Linked DNA regions of Homo sapiens: region 1 is linked to region 2. Evidence: fine-mapped expression QTL. A gene starts in region 2. The other region holds a variant in brackets. All regions are shown on one strand. Distances are between the middles of the regions.

The links. PIP is the estimated chance that this variant, and not a neighbour inherited with it, causes the effect. A credible set is the group of variants that fine-mapping cannot tell apart.
Region 1: its variant is the best candidate, but not a certain one, in a credible set for the expression of CHURC1 in whole blood (INTERVAL, PIP 0.65).

Annotation. Positions count from the first base shown.
Region 1 is chr14:64,948,438-64,958,156 of GRCh38, reverse strand. The region is part of intron 3 of CHURC1-FNTB (CHURC1-FNTB readthrough); the gene reads right to left. RAB15 (RAB15, member RAS oncogene family) reads left to right here. Exons shown (of 7, transcript NM_001308154.2): 2 at 5,586-5,646; 3 at 6,494-6,554; 4 at 7,006-7,083; 5 at 7,743-7,832; 6 at 9,424-9,489; 7 at 9,645-9,719. Among named protein-coding and RNA genes, the nearest start is that of GPX2, 11 kb to the right of the region's middle. RefSeq lists an enhancer at 2,387-3,264. The variant C/T (reference allele first, on the strand shown) is at 4,923.
Region 2 is chr14:64,908,954-64,919,398 of GRCh38, reverse strand. CHURC1 (churchill domain containing 1) reads right to left here and starts at 4,944. Exons shown (of 4, transcript NM_001386928.1): 1 at 4,865-4,944. The coding sequence starts at 4,903. CHURC1-FNTB (CHURC1-FNTB readthrough) reads right to left here and starts at 5,038. Exons shown (of 14, transcript NM_001202559.1): 1 at 4,865-5,038. The coding sequence starts at 4,984. It also overlaps the pseudogene RPPH1-2P. RefSeq lists enhancers at 4,675-4,944, 5,095-5,144.

The sequences.
Region 1 (9,719 bases), 39 kb before region 2:
CCGCATAATGTCAGTGAAACCCCGTCTCTACTAAAAATACAAAAAATTAGCTGGGTGTGGTGGCACGTGCCTGTAATCCCAGCTACTTGGGAGGCTGAGGCAGGAGAATCGCTTGAACCCAGGAGGCAGAGGTTGCAGTGACCTGAGATCGTGCCACTGCACTCCAGCCTGGGCGACAGAGGAAGACTCCGTCAAGAAAAAAGAGAAAAGGCATCAGGTATGCCAGGGTGTGCGGGAAAAGGCATCGGGTATGCCAGGGCGTGTGGGAAAAGGCATCGGGTATGCCAGGGTGTGTGGGAAAAGGCATCGGGTATGCCAGGGCATGTGGGAAAAGGTGGTAAGATTCCTCAGCCTCCCAGGGTTGGGAAGCCTCTGGCCGAGTGAAGCATACCCTGGGTGGGTTTTAAGACACCAGCTTTCCAGTCCAGCTCAGCTGTGGGATGTGGGAACATGAGTCAGTGGGAACATGAGAATTGGCTTCCCTGTGGCTCACAATAATACCTACTCCTGCCTACTTCATGGGACCCGCATAAGAGCTGAGGGATTCCATAGCTCAGGGGTATGCTGTAAAGACAAGCACTATGCACCTGGGTGTGGTTCTGAAACTTTCTTGTGCAGAAGAGTGAGTAGGGCTGGGCGAGTCCTGAGAATGTGCATTTCTCACACACCTCTGATGCTGCTGATGCTCTAGTCCCTTGGCTGGCAAGGGTACCTGGTTAGTAGGGGCCAGGACTCTGTAATGCCTTCCACTTCAGGGTTCTCTGGGCTGGTTTTCCTGACTCCCCAGGAAGCCTTTATTCAGCAGAGGGAAGGTAGGAGTGAGAGGACTACGCTGTCAGTGCTTCACATACATCGTTTAATTTATCCCAGCACAGCCCTTAGGAGGGAAGCAGTATTCTCCTTCTACACTTAAGAAAATCGGCCTGGTGCGGAGGCTCATGCCTATAATCCCAGCACTGTGGGAAGCTGAGGCGGGAGGATCGCTGGAGCCCAGGAGTTCAAGACTAGTCTAGGCAATACAGGGAGACCTCATCTCTACAAAAAAAAAAAAAATTAGCTGGGCATGGTGGTGCACACTTGCAGTCCCAGCTACCTACCCAGAGGCTGAGCTGGGAGGATTGCTTGAGTCCTGGAGGATCGAGGCTGCAGTGAGCTATGATTGCTCCACTACACTCCATCCCTGGCAACAGAGTGAGACTCCATCCCAAAAAAAAAAAAAAATTGAAGCTAGGAGAAGTTGAGACTTGCCTGAAGTTACACAGTAAGTGCCAGAACCAGGACTTGGACCAGGTCTTTCTGACTCCAGGCCAATGGATGTTTCTTCCATGACATATATAGCTCTTGAAACTACTTCTATCTAATATCACCCACAGTGCTGTTAAAAATACAGATTTCTGGGCCTCACCCTCAAATTATGATTCAGTAGGTCTAGGCACGTCAAGGTCATTGTTTTTGTCTTTGTTTTAAGTCACCCCAGGTGATTCTAAAGCCGAAGCTCTGCAAAGCACACCTTGAGAAACAGAGAACTCTTGTGCTCTCGCTCTCTTGACACTTCAGGTGCAAAACTTTTGTCCTAATGTCGTTCTCAAACTTACGCATGTGTGAGAATCACTGTGAGAGCTTATTGAAACTGATTGCGGGACCCCATACCTAGAGGGCCTGATTCTATAGGTCTGAGGTAAGGCCCAAGAATTTGCATATTTGCATTTCGTTTTCTTTTCCTTTCTTTTCTTTTTTTTTTTTTTTGAGATGAAGTCTCACCCTGTCGCCCAGACTGGAGTGCAGTGGCATGATCTCAGCTCACTGCAGCCTCTGCCTCCTGGGTTAAAGCGATTCTCCCCACACCCCAGACCCGCTCCTGAGTAGCTGGGATTACAGGTGCCCGCCACCATGACTAGCTAACGTTTGTATTTTTAGTAGAGACGGGGGTTTCACCATGTTGGCCAGGCTGGTCTCAAACTCCTGACCTCAGGTGATCCACTCACCTCAGCCTCCCAAGGTCTTGGGATTACTGGTGTGAGCCACCGCGTGCGGCCAGAATTTGCATTTCTAACAAGTCCCAGGTGATGCTGATGCTGTGGGTCCAGGGACACACTTTGAGAACAGCTTGTTACTCAGGCGATATGTGGACAGTAGCGTCATCTTCACCTGGGAGCTTCCTGCAGCATCTCAGGCCTTGCCCTACACCTACCAGATCAGAATCTGCATTTTAACTCAATCCCCGCGTGATTCTCATGCACCTGGAAGTTTGAGAAATATGACCTTAGAGGAGCCGGAATGTGAAACCACTGGAGGCAGAGATAGATGGAGAATATCTCTTCTTCTCACGGATACTAAAGATGCAACAAAAAGGGCTGACTCTCTGGGTGTGCACCCAGGTGGGGCTGATGACCGAAAAGAGGCCAGATGTGGACAGAGGACTCTTCCCTGAGGGAAGGCAGAGAGAACTTAGGAAAATCTGAAGAAAGGAGGTGGCTTCAGAGGAAAGGCATTCATCTGGGCCATAAAACAGTGGAGAAGGTATCCTGCTGAGAGCACAGGGGTGGGGAGGGGGTGCCCTGGAGCTGAAGTCTTCAGTGGGGGGACAGTGATAGGTGAACACACATGTGAATAAACAGTTTGCTAAGCAGCTGCGAGGGCTGGCCAAGGTGAGAAAGCATCCGTCTGCAGAGGCCTCAATAAGGCCAGTGTGTTGACTTTGTCCTGCAGTGCTCAGCAGTGGAAAAAACCAACAGCCACGCAGGGAGAGGGAAGGAGCCACGATGGGCACGGGTTACTGGGGCCAGGGCTTGACTGGTAGGTGGACACAGCTGAAGGCCCAGGTTGTGTGGGAACAGAGCGCAGAAGCAATAGATTCCTCTTGAAGATCCTTGGGCTGTTAACCTTTTTTAAATTTAAGAGAGGTTGTGTGGGCGGGGAGGGAGGAAGGAAAATCCTTCAGAAGACATAGACTTACTCTGTTTCTTCCATCATATGTGAATGCATATGAATAGCCAAAAGGTGAATAAAACACATGTTCCCAGGTGGCCAGTGAGACCTAGGTTGCAAGATGGTGGGGTGTGTGTGAGGCCGGGGAGTGCTGCGAGCCCCGGAATTCCTCAGCCTTAGTCCCCCGCCACATAGCTAAGAAGTGAGGGAGGAGGTGAGAAGGAGTCACTGCCCAGCCTCACTTCCGGTGGAGTACCCTGTCTCCTTGTCAGTTCTGTCTCTGGGGACAGTTGCCTGCTTTCACCTCTCCCTCCATCCCCTCTTCTCTCACAGGGAAAAATTCACCTTAATATTGGAAGTTCCTCTCCTAGCAAAGTCCTTCTCAGGCACCCACAGGCAAAAAGGAAACTAAGCAGAGTTAGGGCTTCCAGGCCTAGCCAACTACACGACTCTCCTCTTGCTTCCCTAAGAACCAGCGCAAGGGGCAGCGTGGGTTCCAGCATAGATGGACCTGTGTTGGAATCTCTGCACGTGCTGTGCTGACCCTGGCTAGCCATTGACCTCTCTGAGCCCTTGTTTCCTTTCCACTAGGCTCTCTGAGGGCAGGGGCCATGTCTTTTTCACTGCTCTGTCTGCACTGAGCACTGTGCAGGGCACATAGGAAGTTCCCATAAATGTTTGTGGGATAAAGGAAATAAAACCTTCTCTCTTCCTGTCCCCCTTGTGATGGCTTTGCACAAGGCACTGTCCTTGGCCAGGTTTGCTAGGCTAGTGTGAGGATAAACCAGGTATATTACAAATTGGAGAAAATTTCTCGTTCTTCTTGGAAGAAGGTGCTGTATCATGAAACAAGAATGTCTTGATTCCCTTCTATGCCAGGTACTGGGGAGAAACAGGTGCCTGATAACCGTTGATCCAGGCAGAAATAAGCATACTCCTGCTTCCCAAGGCCTGATGCTTCTCTCCTTCCTCCCTTCCTCCCTCCTTCTCTTCACTCTTTCTCTGCACACATGGAAGAATGGCTGCCAGGCATTGCCCATTTGGAAAAGTACAGCTCAATGGATATGAATCAGCTTGGGCAGGCGAGAAATGATTCACGTCTGACCAAATCGATTTAGTTCAGGTTGCCCGTTCTGCATCTTTTTTCCCTTGTAATTAAATGATGATTGGTCTTGATGGTGGGAAGGAAGAGACAGAATTTAATTTGTTTGCCTTTGTAGAAAGCTGGGGACAGCACAGATAAGGGAAGATGTCTCCCATTTGGCAAATAACTGATGCGGAGGTGGAGTGGCAGTGGTGATGGGGATGCTGGTGCCTTCAGGCCTTCTGGGCCGGGCAGTGCAGCTGGTGGCAGACGGTTCGGAACTCTACCATGTTCCCATCTGAAAACTGTGGCTGATCATGCCCACTCCTGACCTTGCTCCAGGGAGTACACAAAGACGTAAGCTTAATTAACCCACCAGACGTAGCTCTTGAATCCCTGGGCATAGTGCCTGGGTATAGTTAGAGTTGGGGAGAGGCATGGTCAGCAAAACAACCTCCCTCATCTCTCTGTTGTCACTCAGAGTCAAGCTGGCTGCTGCTGGTGGTGCTGACTTCTCTTGCTGCAGATTTCTCCAATATGTTTCTGCCCTGCACGCATTTGCCAAATCCCTTCGGTTTCTTGTGTCTCGTGGCAGCTTAGCTCCTCCAGCCCTTGGATGAAGAAGCGTGGGAACTCTTTGCTTCCTTTCCCTCCCGCAGTGACATGCCATGCCATGCCACTGCCTCTTCATCTGGTCCTATGACAGTCACTCATAAGCACCCGCATGTACCCGGCCCTGCACTAGCTCATGACAGCTGCAGTCAATTGGGCCAGGTGCTGTATCTCATCCGGCCTCCTCAGCAACCCTCTGAGATACTGGTAATGTCCCTGATGAAGATATTTACTGAGGCAGAAATGGACGCTCAGTGAAGCAAGGTGCCTGATGTTATAGCAATGAGCTATGAGTGGC[C/T]AGAGGGAGGAGATAAGCTCAGGCCTGACACCAAAGCCCATGCTCCTTCTAGTCAACCACAGTGCCTCCTATGGTGAATGAGTGAGTCAGCAACCAAGACGCATGAGGCCTTCTTTTTGGTGAGCCTTGGCTGGGTGCTGAGGCTTCAGGTACAATCATGGGTTGGAAGAGCCCTCCTCTCTCTCCACAGTCTGGCACTATGACCCCTTCTGGTTATTAACAAGGCAAAGAGAGAGAGGGAAGAAAGCAGGCAAATAATGTGGGTTGCTATTCCTAGAGATTAGAATTTCAGGAAGGATAAACACAGCGTTCTCTCCAGAAGTATAAATAGGAAGACTTCACACATGACTAGAACGAGACATGTTTTAAGTCTGTCGAGTAAGGCAGTGATGAAGTAGATTTCCCCAGATTCACTCTCCCTCCTCTGGGTCCCCCAGGGCCTTTACTTGTGGCAACTTTCAGCTCAGGGAGGGAGGAAAGCCCCTTTCAAAGCTTCAGATACTTCCTTAAGGTCAGTTTCTGCTTAAAGAAGGCCTTTACATTACTTCATCCCTTTGCCAAATTAAACTGAAAGGAAACCTTTCAAGTGTGATTGCCTGGCCCTTTCCTGTTCATTTCTCGTGGGTACGCTTTCTAACTTTCTTTCTTTCTTCCTTTCTTCAGGTGTTGACTTTAAGATGAAGACCATAGAGGTAGACGGCATCAAAGTGCGGATACAGATCTGGTGAGCTGGGGAGGAGGAGGAGGCAGATGTAGGAGAAGAGGACTTCTGGCTGCTCCTTAGCTGCCCCTGCCATGTGTAAAATTCCTAGGCTTCACCTGGGATAACTGGCCACCTCTCTGATGGATGGAAGCGAAGTCTCAGAAGCCCATCTCTTCCTATAAGCCTTAATCTCCAACCTCTAAGAAACTTTAGGGGATTGACTACAAGCACCAAAGGGCAGGAATTAGAAGGAACTGGCACACTAACCATTGTGAATTTATCTCAGGATTAGGCTTTGCCCTTGGGCTGTGCCACACTATGTTAAGATTGGAAGGAAGGAGGCTACACCCCCCATCATTTAGGGCGAGACCCTGAGAGAGTTCCTCAGGATAGCATGATGAAGTTTCCACAGTAGCAGAGGGTGCTGCTGTGGCTCTCTGCCTGAGGTCTTGGAAGCACTGCCTTTGCCAGGGTTTAGAGCTCCCTCTCAATTCCACAGCAGTATGGGCACTGCCTTCAGAGGTCCCATAGGGACTAGGGGTGTAGCAGCATCCCCTGCCAACTCCCATCCAACCAAATCTGGCCACAGTGGCCAGATTCCAGAGAGCTGTCCAAGGCCTGTTCTGGCTGTGGCTTCTGGTTTCTGCCAGGAGGGCAGTTGGCAGGAGGGGCCAAGGCCCTGCAGGCCTGGTCAGCACCAGCACAGATGACCAGGCCTCTGACTGCAGATCCCTGTGGGGATCCAAGCATCCCTGGTTTTTCACCCTTTAGCTCCCCAGTTTTTCCTACAAGGGGACAGCTCTGCTCTTCCCCTCCCCGTCTGTTCCCATGGTCCCTGCTCCTCTGAGGGACTGGCTTTCTCCTGCAGGGACACTGCAGGGCAGGAGAGATACCAGACCATCACAAAGCAGTACTATCGGCGGGCCCAGGTAAGCCACCACATTGGGGGTTTCAAAGTGGGAAGCTGCCACCCACACTCCCAGCTCTGGGTATTTGAGATGTCTGTGCCACGGATCCCCTAAATACAGTTCGCCTGCTTGGAGGAGCGCAGGGCGTCTTTCAGCTGTTCACTGATCATTTGTCCGTCCATTGTTCATGGCCCACTCACTGCAGGCAGGCCCCTGCCCTCACCCCTGACTTCCACCCTCCATCCTGGGTCAAAGATCCAGGTCAAAGCATGTGGTGTCTTCCTGCTGTAGAGAGTTCTGTGATGGGCCTGGGAGGCGGCAGTGGTGGGGTCTGAGAGAAGAGATATTTCTGGATGCTGAGCAGGGAGAATGGGAGAGTGGGACCCAACCTTTAAGTTTCCACGGCCCCTTCTGGCCCCATGACTGCACTCTCTCTGTGCATATCACATCTCTCTATTTCTCTCTCTCTCAGGGGATATTTTTGGTCTATGACATTAGCAGCGAGCGCTCTTACCAGCACATCATGAAGTGGGTCAGTGACGTGGATGAGGTAGGAGATGCCACCTCACTGCCGGGGTGTGGAGAGGGTGCCTCACCGGGGAAGGCAAGGCGAGGGCCAGATGGGAAGGCAAATGCTTCCAGGAAGCTTTGCCTTCCACAGCCCTGGATGAAGACCTCTGGGTGAGTAAGACATGGGGAAGAAACCGAAGCTGCCATGCCCTCACTCTCTATACCCTGCCAGGCCTCCACGGCTGTGTCTTTCCCGGAAATGAATTAGTTCCAAGTCTTCCCTGTGAGCAGCTTCTTTCCTGAAATCTTGGGACCAGGTGGAGTTGCAAGATTGGGATCTAGTCCTGGCTCTGCACAATAGCTGTGGAGCCTTGGGAAGCCATTTGAATCCTCTGGGTCCCCAGTTCCTGTAGAATGAGGGCTGGACTTACATCCAATGTCCTTTCCAGCTCTGATACCAGTGGTCTAACCCAAGGAAGCACCAGTCTTAGCCAGAGTGTCTTCTACCCTAAGCTCTCCCCGTGATACCCTTGAGGTCAGCCATGGCACTTGGGGGAGCCTGGCACCTGCATCCAGTCGGCCCACCCTGTCCCTAGGGCTCTGGAATTGGTGGTGGGCTGGAGGCAGTGCAGACTCTGTAGGGAAAATTGGGGGGGCAGGCAGCACTCACTGGCTGTTCTGCCCATCCTTTGTCCCTAGTACGCACCAGAAGGCGTCCAGAAGATCCTTATTGGGAATAAGGCTGATGAGGAGCAGAAACGGCAGGTGGGAAGAGAGCAAGGGCAGCAGGTAAGTGGAGGGAAAAGGCAAGTCCACCCCAGGTCCTCTGCTGGGCCTCCAGGGCCAGTCCTGAGCGTGGGGACCTAGGGGTGTGTTCCCCAGTGGCAGGTCCTCCCACACGTCCCCAGCACCCCAAGGCCCTGGGGGAGTGGCCATCCTCGGAAGGCTTGTTGTCTGGGTTTCAGGACAGAAGCCCAGAGATTCGGGGTCCATCCAGAAACAAAGACGTCATAGGCAGCAACTCTCCCAAGTCCAGGTCCCCAAATGCAGGATTGCCCTCTGCTTAAGAGATCATCCCCGTGTTAGTAATGAAGGACTTCAAGTTGTCAACCTCTTCTCTGACAGCATCCAGGCCTAGCTGCCATGTTACGGTCGAGAAATGATCTCCCATCCCACCCAACACTCCCCCACTCCTGTCCTTCTTACCCAGGAAAGAGCCAGGGAGGCAAATGAGGAGACAAAGAGCCACAGCTGGAGAAGCCATGGGGGCAGAAAGGGTAGGAGGATGACGCTGAGGGAATGTCCAAGCATGCAGGGAGACCATCCTCCCAGAGAGCAGAAAGAAATATTGGTTATTTTTTTTTTCTTTCTTTCTTTTTTTTTTTTTTTTTGAGATGGAGTCTCGCTCTGTCACCCAGGCTAGAGTGCAGTGGCGCCATCTCGGCTCACTGCAACCTCTGCCTCCTGAGTTCAAGCAATTCTTCTGCCTCAGCCTCCCAAGTAGCTGAGATTACAGGTGCATGCCACCACGCCTGGCTAATTTTTTTGTATTTTTAGTAGAGATGGGGTTTTGCCATATTGGCCAGGCCGGTCTCGAACTCCTAACCTCAGGTGATCCACCTGCCTCAGTCTCCCAAAGTGCTGGGATTACAGGCGTGAGCCACTGTGCCCAGCCAAGATTGGTATTTCTGAGATAAGTTATCCACTCAGTCCGTGGACCTCAAGAGTTTTCCTCTCCCTTTTCAGTCAATAGCGTTCCATTAGTACTTAAAATGAAATTGATTGTTTGGTATAAAATATAAGACATGGTCATTGACCAATTTGAAAGTAGAGGCAAAGCCTACTAGGATAGTATTTATTGAGCACTCTATGTGTGGCACTGTGCTAAGGCAAGCGCTTTTAAGTGCACGACCCCACTGAATCATCCCACAACCATGGATGGGAGACACACTCAGTCTCCTTTAACAGAAGATAAAGCTGGGGCTTACAGAGAATGTACAACTTGTCCAAGGTCACACAGCTAGCCATCAGTGGCAGTGCTGCTATTCAGGTCTGGGACTGTGGGACTCCAGAGCCCATGTTTTTTACGAGGATGCCATACTGCCACAATGGATGGTGTCTTTATCTCCTGATATATGATTGTGTGTTGGGAGGCGTGGGGTGGCAGCTGGAAGAATGGAGAGGCATATTTGTGGAGGATCTTCCCCCATTCTCTGCTACCCTCTCTTGGAGCTCCCAGTCCCATCTGAGAAATTATCTACTCTGAGAAATCGTCACAACACAGCATGGTTGTGAGTGCAGTGGCAGAAGCCTGTGCCTGGTTGTATGGGCCCCTCCCCTGCCTTACTGACTCTCTTTCAGAAATGTCCTTCTCTTGCAGCTGGCGAAGGAGTATGGCATGGACTTCTATGAAACAAGTGCCTGCACCAACCTCAACATTAAAGAGGTGAGAGCCCTGGTGACCAGGCGCCCGCTCTCTCGGGCTGAGTCCAGCAGAGGTGGGAGGAGGAGCCATAAGATGGACCTTATCCCTCAGGCCGCTGCAGGGTTGCCAGGGGAGAGGAGGAGACACTGGACTAACCTGTGCCCTTTGGTTTCCAGTCATTCACGCGTCTGACAGAGCTGGTGCTGCAGGCCCATAGGAAGGAGCTGGAAGGCCTCCGGATGCGTGCCAGC
Region 2 (10,445 bases):
TATGAAGTTTGGTAGCTTAGCTTTAAATGACAAATACAAAACAAGTAATTTTAAACATATCACTAACATTGATTTTTTCCCACTGATTCATAATGTATTTCTGTATTCCTGTTGCATTACTAACAAAATTTCAAGCTGAAATTAAAATATATGAAATGTTTCATTTCCAGTTTGATATGAAAAATATTTGATTACAATTTTGTGCCTGTTCAGTAATTTTAGAAAATGTAGTAGAGTTCTAGTTCTGACTGGTTTGCTAAATGCTTTTCTGAAGGAAAAAAAAAATGTGGTTCACCATTGAGTTAAAAAACATTTGGGTTCAGAAAATTAGTATGGTTCATTCCAACTTGACTCATGTTTGAATTCAAATTCTCAGTGTTAACAGTATAAGCAAGTAGGCCAGAGCCCCATTAAGAATTCAGTACTATATATTTCTAGTCTGTAAAAATAAATGACAAAACTCCAAACAACTTTATGTAATCGAAGATAAATAATTAACTATTACTTACTCATTCTACACTTAGAGCTTCCCAACAAATGATTTTTTGTTTGTTTGTTTTTTTAAGTAGACAGGGTTTTGCTCTGTTGCTCAGGCTGGAGTGCAGTGGTGTGATCTTAGCTCACTGGAGCCTCGAACTCCTGGGTTGAGGGAATCCTCCTGCCTTAGCCTCTTCCCAAGTAGGTGGAACTATAGGCACACACCACCACGCCTGGCTAATGTTTTTTAATTTTTAATAAGGATGGGGTCTCACTATGTAGCCCAGGCTGGTCTCAAACTCCTGGGTTCAAGCCATCCTTGTGCCTCGGCTTCCCAAAGTGTTAGGATTACACGTGTGAGCCACTAGGCCCGGCCCACCATCTTCTTATTACCCTTCCCTTTGCTAAGCTTCTGCAAAGCTGAGCAAAGCAGTGGGCTTCTGCTCTTACTGCACTTAAAAATAGGTCATGACTTCAAAGAACCCCAGAGTTGGAAGGATCCTTGACATTCCAAATGGTCAGTTAGTCTCTACTGAACAATAGGAAGAGAGCTTAATTCCTTTAAGAGTTACTCATTCCATTTTGAAATGTCAGAATGTTCTTTATTCTGATTCAAAGTCTAAGACCCGTAACATCCACCCACTAATTATTTCTAAATCTGCCTTCTAAAATTCCAAAGAAAAGTTTAATTCTTCTTCATGACAGTCTTTTAATTATTTTAGAACAGAATAAAATCAGAGAAAAGTGCCTTTGAAAGGCACTCTCCTGGTTTTCCAATCACCTCGATCCCTTTTTCTACTATTCTTCCTTATACTTTATTTTCATTTCTGAAGTTAATTTAGTCTTTGGAGCTCAGTCCTTGATTCTCTACATTTTTTTCCTCAGAGAACAAATCCTATTTTGACACTTGTATTTGACTGACTCATCTATCTACATAGTTGTACCCAAACTGCAGTCTTATATCTTCACTTGACCCTTCGGATATTCTCAACCTCAGGTGAAGCATGATATTAATAACAATTTGACCATTTGTCCCCAATTTTGTTTTTTCTTCCCATATGCCTCCAATTTCTGTAATGATACTTCCAACATCCCAGTTGCCTAGATTGAAAATCCTGAGATCATGTGATCATGTATAGGTCTCCCCTTATTCACTTCTACATTAAACAGGTTGAATCTTGTTAATTCTTTTTTTTTTCAACAGGGTCTCGCTCTGTTGCCCAGGCTGGAGTGCAATGGCACGATCATGGCTCACTGCAACCTCCCACCTCAACCTCCAAGTAGCTAGGACTACAGGTGCATGCCACCACGCTTGGCTAATATTTGTGGTGGTTTTTTTTTGTTTGTTTATTTGTTTTGAGACGGAGTTTTGCTCTTGTCACCCATGGTGGAGAGCAGTGGTGTGATCTCGGCTCACTGCAACCTCTGCCTCCCAGGTTCAAGCGATTCTACCGCCTCAGCCTCCCAAGTAGCTGGGATTACAGGCGCCTCCCACCACACCCAGCTAATTTTTGTATTTTTAGTAGAGACGGGGTTTCGCCATGTTGGCCAAGCTGGTCTCGAACTCCTGACCTCAGGTGATCTGCCAGCCTTGGCCTCCCAAAGTGCTGGGATTATAGGCGTGAGCCACCGTGCCCAGACTATTTGTATTTTTTGTAGAGACAGGGTTTTGCCATGTTTGAGACTGGTCTCAAACTCCTGGGCTCAAGTGATCCACCTGCCTTGGCCTCCCAAAGTGCTGGGATTACAGGTGTGAGAACCGTGCCCAACCTAATTCTTTCTTTGAAATAAGGTCTTCATTATCTCATGCCTACACCACTGTTGCCATGGCTCCTCAAATGCCCTGTGGAGTTCTGTCTTTACACACCCTCTACCCCACCATTTCAACATTCAGCCATAAGATTCATTTTCCTAAATAACAGATTTCAGAATCATTTCTCTATTAAAATTTTGATGGTGGCCCAATGCCTAAAATGTAAACTCTAAACTTCTCAATATGACTTTTAAGTTTTACAATAACTCCACTCTTAAGAATCCAACCTAAGGCCCGGCGCGGTGGCTCACGCCTGTAATCCTAGCACTTTGGGAGGCCGAGGCAGGTGGATCACGAGGTCAGGAGATCGAGACCATCCTGGCTAACAAGGCGAAACCCTGTCTCTACTAAAAATACAAAAAAATTAGCTGGGCATGGTGGTGGGCACCTGCAGTCCGAGCTACTCGGGAGGCTGAGGCAGGAGAATGGCATGAACCAGTGAGGCGGAGCTTGCAGTGAGCCGAGATCATGCCACTGCACTCCAACCTGGGCGACAGAGCAAGACTCCATCTCAAAAACAAAAACAACAACAAAAAAGAATCCAACCTAATCTCTTTAATATTCTCTACTGCAAACTCCTCCCTCATGGTCTCATAATAGCTCATGTTTATTACTGGTTTCATAAAAATCTTTTTAAACTTTAAAAAAATGAAATAGTACATAGTAAAGTACATGAAACATAAATGTAGCGAACAAGAAATGATTATAAAGTGTACATCTGTAGAACCACCACCCAAATCAAGAAATAAAACACTGCTTGCACCCGGGAAGACTTTTTCTCATGTGACCCTTCTTGATCACACCCTAATCCCTTAGGAGTAACCACTATCTCGACTTAACAGTAATTGTATACGTTCCTTACAGTTTTACCACCCAGGTACATCCTTGAATAATATATTTTGGTTTGCCTCTTTTTGAATTATACTTTATGTGTTCTTTCATCAACACTATTTGTAAGACTTTTCAGGCTGCTGTGTAATTCTAGTTTGGTTTCACGGCTATAATTCAGGGTTTCTCTACCTCCACACTATTGACATTGGGAGTGATACTTTGTTGTGGTGGCTGTCCCATGTATTGCTGGATGTTTAGCGGCATCCCTTGCATCACCCATTAGCAGTCAGTAGTACTTCCCCTTTTGACACCCAAAAAATGTCTCTGGATATTGCCAAATGTCTCCTAAGAGCCAAAAATCACTCCTGGTAGAGAACTACTGCTCTAATTCATTCACTTCCATTCCTCATTCATTAATGGTGTTCCATTCTAATGAATGTATCAGTTACTTTTCCAATCTACTACAAAAATAATGCTGTTATGAACACTTATTTATAAAAGTCTTCAGAAGCATATACACATGCATTTTTCTAGAATGGGAATCACTGGGTCATGTCTGTATTTTATAAGGCTCACCCGCTTTTTCAAAGTAGTTGTACTACAGGAGAATTCATACTGTTATACATGCTACTCAAAAGCCTAAGTATTACCCATAAGATACTAAGACATAAGGAACTACAGAGACTTTCTCCCTCCTTCCCAACCAATGCACAAATTCCATTTCTGTAATTTTCCCCCATCCTCCAGCTCCTCACCTTCTTTTCTACCCTAATTACAACTGTCCTTCAAGTCTTAGATGATGTCCACCTTTTCTCAGGGGAGAACAGCACTATCCCCTATTGCCCTCCCCTTTCCCTAAACTTGAATAGCATTTCTGAACTGAGCTACTCATTTTTTGTTAGTCACATACTCCCCAAAACTGTAAGCTGTTAGGCAGCACCAAAGGTGCCTTTTAATTTCTTCTCTGAAACAAATAATCCAGCTGGACGTGGTGGCTCATGCCAGTAATCCCAGCACTTTCGGAGGCCAAGGCGGGAGGATCACTTGATCCCAGGAATTTGAGACCAGCCTGGGCAACAGCAGCACCCTGTCTCAAAGAGAGGAGAAATAATCCCTTTCTGGCCTAGCAAAGTAATCTAACTACACATATATAAATGTTCAACAAGGATGCCTTGAATGAATGAGAATAGACAAGCTTTGCAAACTCCTGAACCTGAAAGTAACTGAGATTCAGAAGGCGGTAACAGGCAGGAAACCTAAATTCTAGTCCTGGCTCTCATCCATGCAACTAGAATGTGAACTTGGGCAAGTGATTTCCCCTCTCTGGGCATCGGTTTCTTCATCTGCAAAAGTGTTAGAACAGATGACCACAGAGGTCCCCTCCAGCGCTAGAATTCGGTAAGAAAATTGTACTTCATCAAATCGAGCTTGAGGATGAGACCGGAAGTGGGGGTGGGGGAGTCCCTCGGTTGTCGACGGGGGTTGTGGTGGTGGTGGGGTTCCTCTGTTGCTCCTTGGAGCTCAAGAGAACGGCCACTACAACTGAGGTCAGCCGCCAGGGCGGGTACCAGAGGTGCAGACCGCCACAGGCCATCCCTGGTGTGCCTAAATACCGCTACTGGGTCACCGGGACCGGCAGTGCGGCCGAGTCCGCCCCACGTACGGCCTCTCTGGGAAGGCCAGCCTTGGATATGAGACACCTCGGGGGCCGCCCGCGGGCCAAGGGAGCGCCCAGTCGCTCACCCGGTTGGGATATTCCTTCTCCACACAGTCGCCACACATCGCGACGCAGTCAACAGGGAATGTCCTCCAACGCTTCCGGGAAGACGAAACCTCGCGAGAACTGAGATACGGTTGCCGCATGCGCCCAAGTACTCGACTCCTGGGTATTCCGTCTCGGGAACCGAGCCGAAGTCTCCGCCCCTTAGCAACTGTTGTCAAGGCAGGGCACAGTCTCCTTGGCACCGTGCGTGGGCAAAGGGTGGGGCTTCAGAAACCTTTGGAGACAGACGAAGAAATCTTGTGCGCTAACAGATGTGACGGGAAGGGAAAGGGATCTTGGGCTGAGCGAAGTTCTCACAGACACCTTCCTGAGCTTAGGCTGACAAGAAAGGCAAATCACGACACACAAGAAAGGGAATTATTTCTCGCTACCGCATATACAAATCTGAAATGTTAATGAATACATTTCTGTACCATTTCTTAAGGCAATGAGAGTGAATAAGAGACCAGATCTCAGCAGGTGAATAAACAGTAACCGAAGTGTTTGGGAAGAGACACTCAGAGTGCTGCAGAAAATCTCCTAAAAAAACACTTAAAATATTAGTAATAATTGGTCATTCCAGAGTCCTCTGGAGGACATAGCAACGAGGAACGTATTTCTATCTCTCTCAGGTGTCACAGAAGCACCTCAGTGGCGGGCAAGCACTATGTAAATAGAAAAATGGCCAGGTCATCAGCCATCCCATTACTGGGTATATACCCAAAGGATTATAAATCATGCTGCTATAAAGACACATGCACATGTATGTTTATTGTGGCACTATTCAGAATACCAAAGACTTGGAACCAATGCAAATGTCCATCAATGATAGACTGGATTAAGAAAATGTGGCACATATATACCATGGAATACTATGCAGCCATAAAAAAGGATGAGTTCATGTCCTTTGTAGGGACACGGATGAAGCTGGAAACCGTCATTCTGAGCAAACTATCGCAAGGACAGAAAACCAAACACCGCATGTTCTCACTCATAGGTGGGAATTGAACAATGAGAACACTTGGACACAGGGTGGGGAACACCACACACCGGGGCCTGTCGTGGGGTGGGGGGAGGGGGGAGGGATAGCATTAGGAGATATACTTAATGTAAATGACGAGTTAATGTGTGCAGCACACCAACATGGCATATCTATACATAGGTAACAAATCTGCACGTTGTGCACATGTACCCTAGAACTTAAAGTATATTAAAAATAAATAGATTTCAAAAATTATCTAATTGAATTGACTGCAGATATTTTGATTTCAGATTTGCACATCCATTTATAAATGACCTATTGGTTCACAGATTAAAAAACCAATAAACATATGTGCTTCCAAGAAAAGAAAGAAAGAAAGAAAAATGGCCAGGTCAGTTGTTCCTGCATCATTTCCCAATCCTGTGGGTCTCAAAATGCTTGTGCTTGTTGCCCCGCCTCATCCTTTCTCTCTGTATTGAAAGCATCTTATTTATTCGCAACGACCTAATTAACTTGCAGACGAATCTCCGAAGTTTGTCTCTGTTTCTGAACAATGCGTCTTTATCACACTCCTCTACCCCAATGGGAACATCAACATCCTCCCTCAGCCCTGCTTTATTGCTGTCATGTCAGGGAAGAAAGATTGGGGAGCCTGGGAGACTCTGGGATCCAGATTCCTTAAAGAAGAGATTAATAACCATTTCAAAGCACACCAGTTTAAATGGGTTTGCTAATATGGGAATTATTTTTCCACGGAAGCACTGAAGTTGTAACCTTTAGTATTTCAACTTCTAGTAAGTATCTGCAACTGTTATTAAAAATCATAGGTGTGCTAAGAAACACTGCAAGAACTAGAGCCATCAGAGTTTACCTTATTCTTAGAATAATTATAATACCTCCCATTTGTATGACATTTTCAACCTTTCAAAAGTGTCCTCATTTCAGTTTCTAATTTTATGCTATTACAATCCTATGTGGTTGGTAAGAAAAATATGTCTCCTCTTTTCAGATAAGGAAACCACAGAAGTGAGTGGTTAAAGGTCTTGTCTATGGTAACAAAGCTACTCAGTAGTCAGCCAGGGCTAGGACTCTGTTGCTATCCTTATCTCAATTTCTTTCTAATACAGTAGCACTAGCCACTTATGGCTATAAAGCACTTTAAATATGGCAAGTTGAACTGAGATTGTGCTGTGAGTACATTCTGCACACCAGATTTGGAAGATTTAGTATTAAAATATATAAGAATCTCATTAATAAATTTATATGATTACGTTGAAATAATTTTTGACGTACTGGGTTAAATAAAAATGTATTATTAAATTAATTTCACCTGCTTTTTTAATGTGACTACTAGAAAATTAAAAATTACACATGTAGCTCTCATATTCCTATTGGACAGGGCTAGTCTTTTTTTCTTCTCTCTCTCTCTTTTAAGGCAGTCTCACTGTGTCACCTCGGCTGGAGTGCACTGGCATAGTCTCGGCTCACTGCAACCTCTGCCTCCCAGGTTCAAGCGATTCTCATGCCTCAGCCTCCCAAGTAGCTGGGACTACCGGGGCACACCACCACAACCGGCTAATTTTTTGTAGTTTTAGTAGAGATGAGGTTTCACCATGTTGGCCAGGGTGGTCTCGAACTCCTGGTCTCAAGTGATCCACCTGCCTCGGCCTTCCAAAGTGCTGGGATTACAGGTGTGAGCCACTGCACCTGGCCCAATTCTTTCTCTTCATCCATTTTTAAATGGTTTCTCTGTTTTTAAAGCCTAATACTGACTTTTAATCCTTTGCTACTCCCCAGCTACAATTTAGTCTGAGAGATAAAATGAGCACAAATACTAATAATTACTGGCAGATTGGGGTATAAGAACACAAAATGATGAGACTACACCCAGGGGGAGGATTAGGAAAGAGGAATTTGGGCCTTAAAGCATGTTTAGAATTTCAAAAAGCAGAGTTTTGTTTTGTTTTGTATAGAAATTTCAGGTGAACCATGCCAAGGAGTTTGGATTTTATTCTGCATGTGGTAGGGAGCAACTGAAGGTTTGAGCAGGAGAGTGTTGCCAGAGTTGTGGTTTAAAATTATTTTAGGCTGGGTGTGGTGGCTCACACCTGTAATCCCAGCACTTTTGGGACGCCAAGGCAGGAGGGTAGCTTGAAGCCAGGAGTTCAAGACCAGCTTGGGCAACATAGTGATGACCTCAAAAAATTTTTAAATTAGCCTAGTGTGGTGGTGTGCACCTGCAGTCCTAGCTACTCAGGAGGCTGAGATGGGAAGATCTCTTGAGCCTAGGAGTTTGAGGCTGTAATGAGCTATGATCATGCTGCTTGCACCCCCGCCTGGGCAACAGAGTGAGACTCTGTCCCTAAAAAATAAATAAATAAAAAAGATTATTTTAGCTGCATTTTATTGGGACTTACTGGAACTGGGAAAAAAATGGACATGCCAAAGGCAGACGTTAGCAGGAACCACAAGGGGGAGATGTATAGCTTTCTGCCTCATCACTGAGAATATACACAACAAAAATAAATTAATTAAAAATTACACTAAAGTCATAGATCTTAAAGAGTACACCCATTAGCATGAATTGATTTCATATTCTAAGGCATGAAAGACAATCTACATATTTATGAAATTTTTTTACCTTCCCAGAGTTATATCATAACTTGTTATTAAAATGAGCAAGATAAAAAAAAAAAAAGGTCGGCCGGGTATGGTGGCTCATGCTTGTAATCCCAGCACTTTGGGAGGCTGAGGCGGGTGGATCATGATGTCAGGAGATCGAGACCCTCCTGGCTAACATGGTGAAACCCTGTCTCCACTAAAAATACAAAAATTAGCTGGGCATGGTGGCGCATGCCTGTAATCCCAGCTACTCAGGAGGCTGAGGCAGGAGCAACGCTTGAACCTGGGAGTCAGAGGTTGCAGTGAGCCGAGATCGTGCCATTGCACTCCAGCCTGGGCGACAGAGCTAGACTCCATCTCAAAAAAAAAAAAAAAAAGTTGTCATATTTATGGTCACAAAAGCTCAAGAGCTCAGGGCTATCTATCCAATGAAGTCCTCCATTTAAATCTAGCCACATTCAGAGAAGAGAGGCAGGAAATGAGACTTGGGGGAAGAGGTAGCCAGGACCAGAAATTAAAGTGTGACTGTGGTAATGGGAATATAAAAGTATCTGAGGTTGACAGATGGGAGAAAGGAAAATAGAGGCTACAAAGCAGAAGATTAGCACCTGAATGAAATGAACAAGTAGTGATGTAACATAAGAAAAACAATAAACAGAAAAATATTTTCTCTTATAGGTAACTATATAAAATAAAATTTGCAAAATCAATTTTATCTTCTAATAGAATTTTCTCTGGGGAAATACCCTGCCCCTATGGGTCTCTAATAAATATGTGATGTCCATGAGATATATCAAACAAACCATGTTGCAGTTTACGTATGAGATCACCTCTTGTAAAAGGAATTGATTAAAGAAAATCTAAATGTTAAAATGGCCCTAATTGCTGGCTCAGTTACATGTGCTAAACTACATCCCTGTGGTAAGATGAAAATTTTCCCTAAAGAGTGCAGTTTGACTCTCCTTTTAACACCTTCTTTCTATTTTTTCTTTTGTCTTATGCTGTCTTAAGCCAAGAGTCTGAAGTGATGACACAATGCTGATCATATCTATTATTTTCATCTTTTGTTGAAAGGAGCAAATAAGTGCCCCAGCCTTTATGGTAGTATCCTCAGACCCATTTCACAGATGGAGTAGAGGAAGCTCATCTGCTTGGTGAAGGTATAGGTCATTCTTTCCATTGTTTCAGGGAAAGTGTGAAATAAGAGTCTGTGGTTGTCATCACCTGATGTCACCTGCCTGATATGAATGAATTAGCAGCATTTCTGGGTTAACCCAGTGAATACAGGTGAGCCTGGCTGAGGACAGGTACAAAAGCACTCCTAGAAGTTCAGGGTCAGCAGGTTTTTTTCTTAGCTCAATGGGAGAGTTAGACTTTCTTCCCTTTAGGGTTCTCCTGCCCAACTTCAGGCTACTTCCCCTATTCAGATGATAAACTCAAGCCTTTCAAGCACATTTATTTATTTTTTGCTTTTTAAAACTTTATTTCAACATAACTATGCTTACAGAAGTACAGTCATATTGGCTAATAGAATGCAATTTAAGTTTAAACTTACCCTGTACAATTTGAATAAGAAACTTGGTACGTGGTTTAGGATTTTAAAAATGATTTGCAGTCTGGTTTATTTTTTATCTATTACAAATGTATAAAAGACCCTCCATCAAATTCTGCTAAAGAAGGCAGCAGAAACTTGAGAAAATTACCTTTGGTTTGTCTTAGAAAAAAAACAGGCATTGCACTGCTTAAGTTTATAAAATTGGTGCAAAAAAAAATTGTAATGCTTCAATGCCAATTTAGAAAGTTCAGTTACCAATGGATATGGAAATGGGTGTGAAGGAGCCTATATACACATGTGAAACTGTAAATATCTGATTTAGGTAATATTGCCTGTAGATTATAAATCTACACACACCAAGATTCATATAATTTCTCCAATCTGAATTAACACTATCTGTTCA